Linked DNA regions of Homo sapiens: region 1 is linked to region 2. A link means that fine-mapping ties the variant in region 2 to the expression of a gene that starts in the linked region. Tissue or cell type: prefrontal cortex. Region 2 holds a variant in brackets; the other region holds the start of a gene. All regions are shown on one strand. Distances are from middle to middle.

Region 1 (2,771 bases), 200 kb before region 2:
TCTCCAAGCCGCAGCCCCCCATCTAATGACAGGTGGTGGAGGTGGAGCACTTTAGAAACCAGTCTCAACAAATTAAAAAAAAAAAAGGACTTCAAAAAAGGGAACCAAGTTGATTCTTAAAACAATCTGTGCCACATTAAAAATAATAACAATAAATAAACTTGGAAGTTCAAAGAGTAAAACTAAAACAGGGACTAAAGGAAATCATCTTTGTTTTTTGCAGCCAATGACTGTGCAGACCTGATGCTGTCTTGTTCTTGTACCAAATTCTCCTTGAAAATACCAGAGACCTCTCTCTGAATGGCCATAACATTATACCCTAAGGGAAATAATTTTCTCCAACATTTCTCATCTTTTGTAAACAGATGGCATATATATATTTAATATATATATTTATAGATATATTTATAGATATTTATATATATTTATAGATATATTTATATATATATTTAAAGAGAAAGAGAAATACCAACAGTCTGCCAACTGTGGAATTCTTATAGTCCGATAGTTTCTTTTTGGTTATTTTTTCACAACTAAATTAACTAGTGTTGCTGCCATAGATACATTTAAGAAAATCAGACACTTTGCTGCTTTTACATATATCTGTCTGAAACTCAGCAGGAATATTTCAGTTGCCTTAGAAAAATATCCAGTTAACAAACTTTGTGAAGTGAAAAGAAAACCTTATCAAAATCTCCAGCTTCAAGTACATTTAGTTGTTTTCTTTTTATTGTTGCTTACATGCTGTGATTGGAGCACAATATGTGGAAATTGCATAACCATTATTTCCACAAATCAAAGCTATTGAGACATGGGAAGGCCATGTGGAGCTGCTGCATGAAATGTTGGTTAAAAAAATTCCACTCTGCCTTTATATCTAAAGTCTTCCCTTCTTTCAGGTATCAATGGTTTCTTCAGTCGTAAGCATCACTAGGTTGTGTTTCGTTTGTTTAACTGCTTTTAAAATCAGAATTAGCCATAGGTCAAATAACATTTTTTGAAAAACATTTTCTCTATGTGTCTTATATTTTTCCTTAGTTCTACTTTGTTTTGTTATTTTTAATATTTTGGGGGTAATCTAGGCAAAGAGCTCTTAATTCTTAATGCATTAGAACCATCAAGAAACATTCAGTGCAATTTCCATGTCTCAGGGGAAAGTTTTGGTGTCCTCACCTCGATCCATTCCCAGGTTTATGGGGACTAGGGAGAATCCTTTCACTATTATTTTACATTTTAAAATATACCTAATCAAGTGCAGTGCAGTGCAGTGGTGTATGCCTGTGGTCCCAGCTGCTCGGGAAGCTCAGGAGAGAGCATCACTGGAACCCAGGAGTTTCAGTCCAGCCTGGGCAACACAGCAAGATCCCATCTCTAAAAAAAGAAAAGAAAGAAAAGAAAACAGTGGCCAGTCAGATGGCTATGTAGGTCAAAGACAGCCTGACTGAATCATATGAGAGGGAAGAAAAACACTTGTCATTCCTAGCTTTCTGTGTTCCTCTTTTGTTCCAGCAGAGCTTTGGTTGTACTACTCTAATACCCATACAACACTGCTTTCCTTAGAGCCACAGCTACTGCTGAGAACTCAAAAACTTCTTCCTTTCCGGTGAACACGTCTAGACTTGGGCTGGGGATGGGATGAAGATCTCTAACACCTTCCTGGAAATCAAGAAGTGCAAATAGGTAATTTTCCCTTTTTTTTTTTGAGATGGAGTCTCACTCTGTCGCCCAGGCTGGAGTGCAGTGGTGCAATCCGGCTCACTGCAATTCTCCCTGCTTCAGCCTCCTGAGTAGCTGGGATTACAGGTGCCCGCCACCACACCCAGCTATTTTTTTTAGTTTTAGTAGAGACGGGGTTTCACCGCATTGGGCAGGCTGGTCTCGAACCCCTCACCTCAGGTAGATCCGCCTGCCTCGTCCTCCCAAAGTGCTGAGATTACAGGTGTGAGCCACCGTGCCCAGCCTGGTAATTTTCTTAAGAGAGAAATAATGCTTTGTTTTGAGATGTTCTGCTGGGGTATTCTGGTAGCTCTTTCAGTGCTTAAACTCATTCCGAGTCTGCACAAATGGCATAATATTTAGCTGTGCTTTGACACTCTTCAGCACCTGGAATATAATGAGCATAAATATCTTTTTAGGTTTCTAGATCAAAGATTGTTTTCTTCTATAATGTTTCTCCTCAAAGAAGTGTTTCACTGTTCTGTAAAGTAAATTTCAGAGATTATAAGGCCAAAATAGCGATTATAGCAAAAGTCTATGATCAGTTACATTGTCTAATTTTGAATTACAGTGGCAGCTTTTCTTTTATCTTTAAATTTGGTGCCATTTCTTCCTATCATTTCCACCCCTGGGATTTTTCTGGTTAGAGATGTATATAATTGCCTTTCTGCCCACATTCCCTTCTAAAAGAATCTGTTCCCCTGCTGAACAGATGGGCCTAGTCATCTATGTTTATATCATATGACCCTACTCCCTGGTTATGATGATTGGACCAGGGTGGGGAGACCTACTCTGAGAGTCGATCCATAGGTTAGGCCAAGCCAACTAGATGATATTGTTTGAAAAAATTTCACTGAGACACAAAAGTCATAGTTAAGTGATGAGAATTGGAGTTGTCGGGTCACAGGTATTTAGTGTGAGACCTCTATGGCAAGCTTCAGCTACATGAACATTAAATTATGAGGGAACCCAAAGTAAAATCCTTACATGTGGAGCCAGCCTACAAGAGCAACCTAGAATAGACATGCAGAGAGAAGCAGTAGCAAGAGCTTACA
Region 2 (2,771 bases):
AGTCCCTAGGGAGTTAATCTCCAGCTTGAAAGATTCAAGATGAGTTGAAAACAATAAAAGCATAACCCTTAAATCTTCTAATAAAAATAGTTTTAGTAAGGGTTGACTGGAACTGCTCAGATCAATAAGAAAGGCATTATATGATACTTAGTTTTGTTTTCTGTAATAATTTGACTTTTATAGTTGTCAGTATTGTTATTATATTTAGCCATATTAACAAAGTGTCTATTTTGATTTATTAACCATCACTGTGTAGGAAAAAGGCCCTGGTTTCTCTCTCTTAATAGCTTCCTTGAGAAGCTTATCATTTTATAAATAATTCAACCAGCATTGCTCCTTTGGAGGTAACATATACTATTTGCGGGTAAAATGTATGAGTAAATACATAATTCTTTGTGGACCAAATTTCAAAACCTGATTCCTTAAAATTGTTAAAATGGGCCAACGATAGTACCTGAGATTCAACAGCATTTCTTGACAGTTTCTTCATCAGTTTGATCTTCGCCTTTACAGATGTCCTCACAGGTATGCTGAGACAATCAAACAAGTAATTTGTTTTGATTACATTAAAAATCCCAAAGGCCTAAAGAAGGTCTTTACCCTGGAAAGAACTGAAATTCGCCACACCACACTCAGCCACTCATGCAGCCTTATGCATCCCCTAAGAGTTTGCAGTTCTCAGCCCCAGTTACGTAACAGATCAACTGGAGACCTTTAAAAAAATACCAATACTGGGACTGGCCTAGAAAAATTCTGAAAGAATTAGTCTGGGGTGAGATCTAAAAGTGAATATTCTTAAAAAGCTGCTCAGAGATTCTAGTCTGTAGCTAGAATGATAACCACTCCACTATAGCCATGGCATATTACTCAGTGTGTCCAGGGAAGCTGATATTAGTATATTCTGATTATAACAATATAAAACACAGAATCCACATTTATTAGATCAAGCAGAACTTCCTGGTTGTGTGTGTTGGCAGGAGGTTGTGTGTGTTCACAGAAGATTGTGTGTGTGTTCTTCTTTTATAATACTTAATGCTTAACCTTGGTACAACTCTGTTTCATTCTCTGGGTACAGCAAATGAACAACTTTATCACATTTATCAGGAATAAATTGATAATGTATTTTACAGATAATCACTAATTTTCATATCCCTATAAAGTACCAA[C/G]AGGAGAAAAACAACGCCATGGAATGAATGAGCCATGCCTTCAAACAGTGCTTCTGGAGCTATTGATATGATGGTTGCACACGCTACCTTGCTTTGGCAAGGTTATCTTAATCAGGGCTCCCTCTGATTCTTTATGTAACTTATTCTGTAACAGCTGTGGAGAACACTTTTATAATGTCTAATGTTTATGACCTAGCAGAACTTCTTTCAAGAAAGCTGCTGAGGGCATATGCCCACAAATCTAATGCAAAGGCTGAATGCTGTTCGTAACATGAAAGGAGACCATGTTACTATTCTGCATAAAAATTCTCTGGTAGTTCCTGCCTTCAAGTTACTTACGCTATAAAACCATTTATTGCCTGGCTCTTCTTACCTGGCCAACTTTAATGTCCCGCCATTCTCCCCACTCCCATCCTCTCCCTCCACACATGTAAGGCTGAAGTAGAGAAAATGAATGCTCACTTCCTAGGATGCTGTAAATATTAAACCAGAATTCCCAAAAAATACTTAGTACAGTGCTTAGAATGTAATAACACAAGATTAAACACACACAGAAATAAATGACAATAACAACAACAAAAATATTTCTGTGTCCTCATAGAGCAGTTGCCTGCTTCTTACTTTACCTTTCAGTAGCATCATTTGCATATATCTATCATAAGCTTTATCTAATTACATTAAAATCAGTGGTTTGCCAATCAGCTTAACAGCATAGGTCTCAATGCACAATAGGCATGTAATTAATTTTTCATGAAATCAAATGCCTCTGATTTAAAAATTTCAAGAAGTGTTAGATTTTTGCTCAGCCATCTATTCTCTCACATGCTTAGATCCTCAAATATTAATTTAATGAATGAGTGAATCAATGAATGGTTCCCTTTATAATCAGGAACTGGTAGAAACTATGAATGCAGTTCATACAGTGATGCCAACTGGCCCATAGATGATTCAAAACTTTGAGCCTTGGCTTTCTATTACCCTCTCATAGGATTAATTTCTAACTACATCCAAAACTACCTCAGAAAAATTTGAAGACTGAAGCATCCCTATAATGGTTCTTAGTGGTGTTGTCAGAGTTCAAATGAACCAGAGTGACTCCATCTTGAATAGGGGCTGGGTAAAATAAGGATGAGACCTGATGGGCTGCGTTCCCAGGAGGTTAGGCATTCTCAATCACAGGATGAGCTAGGAGGTCAACAGGACTGGTATCACAAGATACAGGTCATAAAGACCCTGCTGATAAAACAGGATGCAGTAAAGAAGCCAGCCAAAACCCACCAAAACCAAGATGGTGTGGAAAGTGACCTCTGGTCATCCTCGCTGCTTGTTATATGGTAATTATAATACATTAGCATGCTAAAAGACACTCCCACCAGTGCCATGACAGTTTACAAATGCCATAGCCACCTCGGGAAGTTACCCTATACGGTCTAAAAAGGGGAAGGAACCCTCAGTTCCAGGAAATACCTACCCCTTTCCTAGAAAACTTATAATCCACCCCATATTTAGCATATGATAAGAAAACTTATAATCCACCCAATATTTAGCAGATGATAAGAAATAACCATAAAAATAGCTAACCAGCAGCCCTGGGGGCTGCTCTGT

Which allele goes with the higher level. Positions count from the first base shown, and alleles are read on the strand shown. Sizes are in standard deviations (SD) of each study's normalised expression.
In carriers of allele G in region 2, the expression in prefrontal cortex of the gene that starts at base 1,511 in region 1 tends to be higher than with C alone (large effect, 1.7 SD a copy in BrainSeq).

Evidence for each region. PIP is the estimated chance that this variant, and not a neighbour inherited with it, causes the effect.
Region 1: LINC01827 starts here. The variant in region 2 is fine-mapped to the expression of LINC01827 in prefrontal cortex (BrainSeq, PIP 0.95).

Annotation. Positions count from the first base shown.
Region 1 is chr2:195,573,233-195,576,003 of GRCh38, reverse strand. LINC01827 (long intergenic non-protein coding RNA 1827) reads left to right here and starts at 1,511. Exons shown (of 2, transcript NR_187191.1): 1 at 1,511-1,680.
Region 2 is chr2:195,368,912-195,371,682 of GRCh38, reverse strand. The region is part of intron 1 of LOC105376755 (a long non-coding RNA gene); the gene reads left to right. LOC105373817 (a long non-coding RNA gene) reads right to left here. Exons shown (of 3, transcript XR_923733.3): 3 at 108-530. Among named protein-coding and RNA genes, the nearest start is that of LINC01825, 160 kb to the left of the region's middle. The variant C/G (reference allele first, on the strand shown) is at 1,167.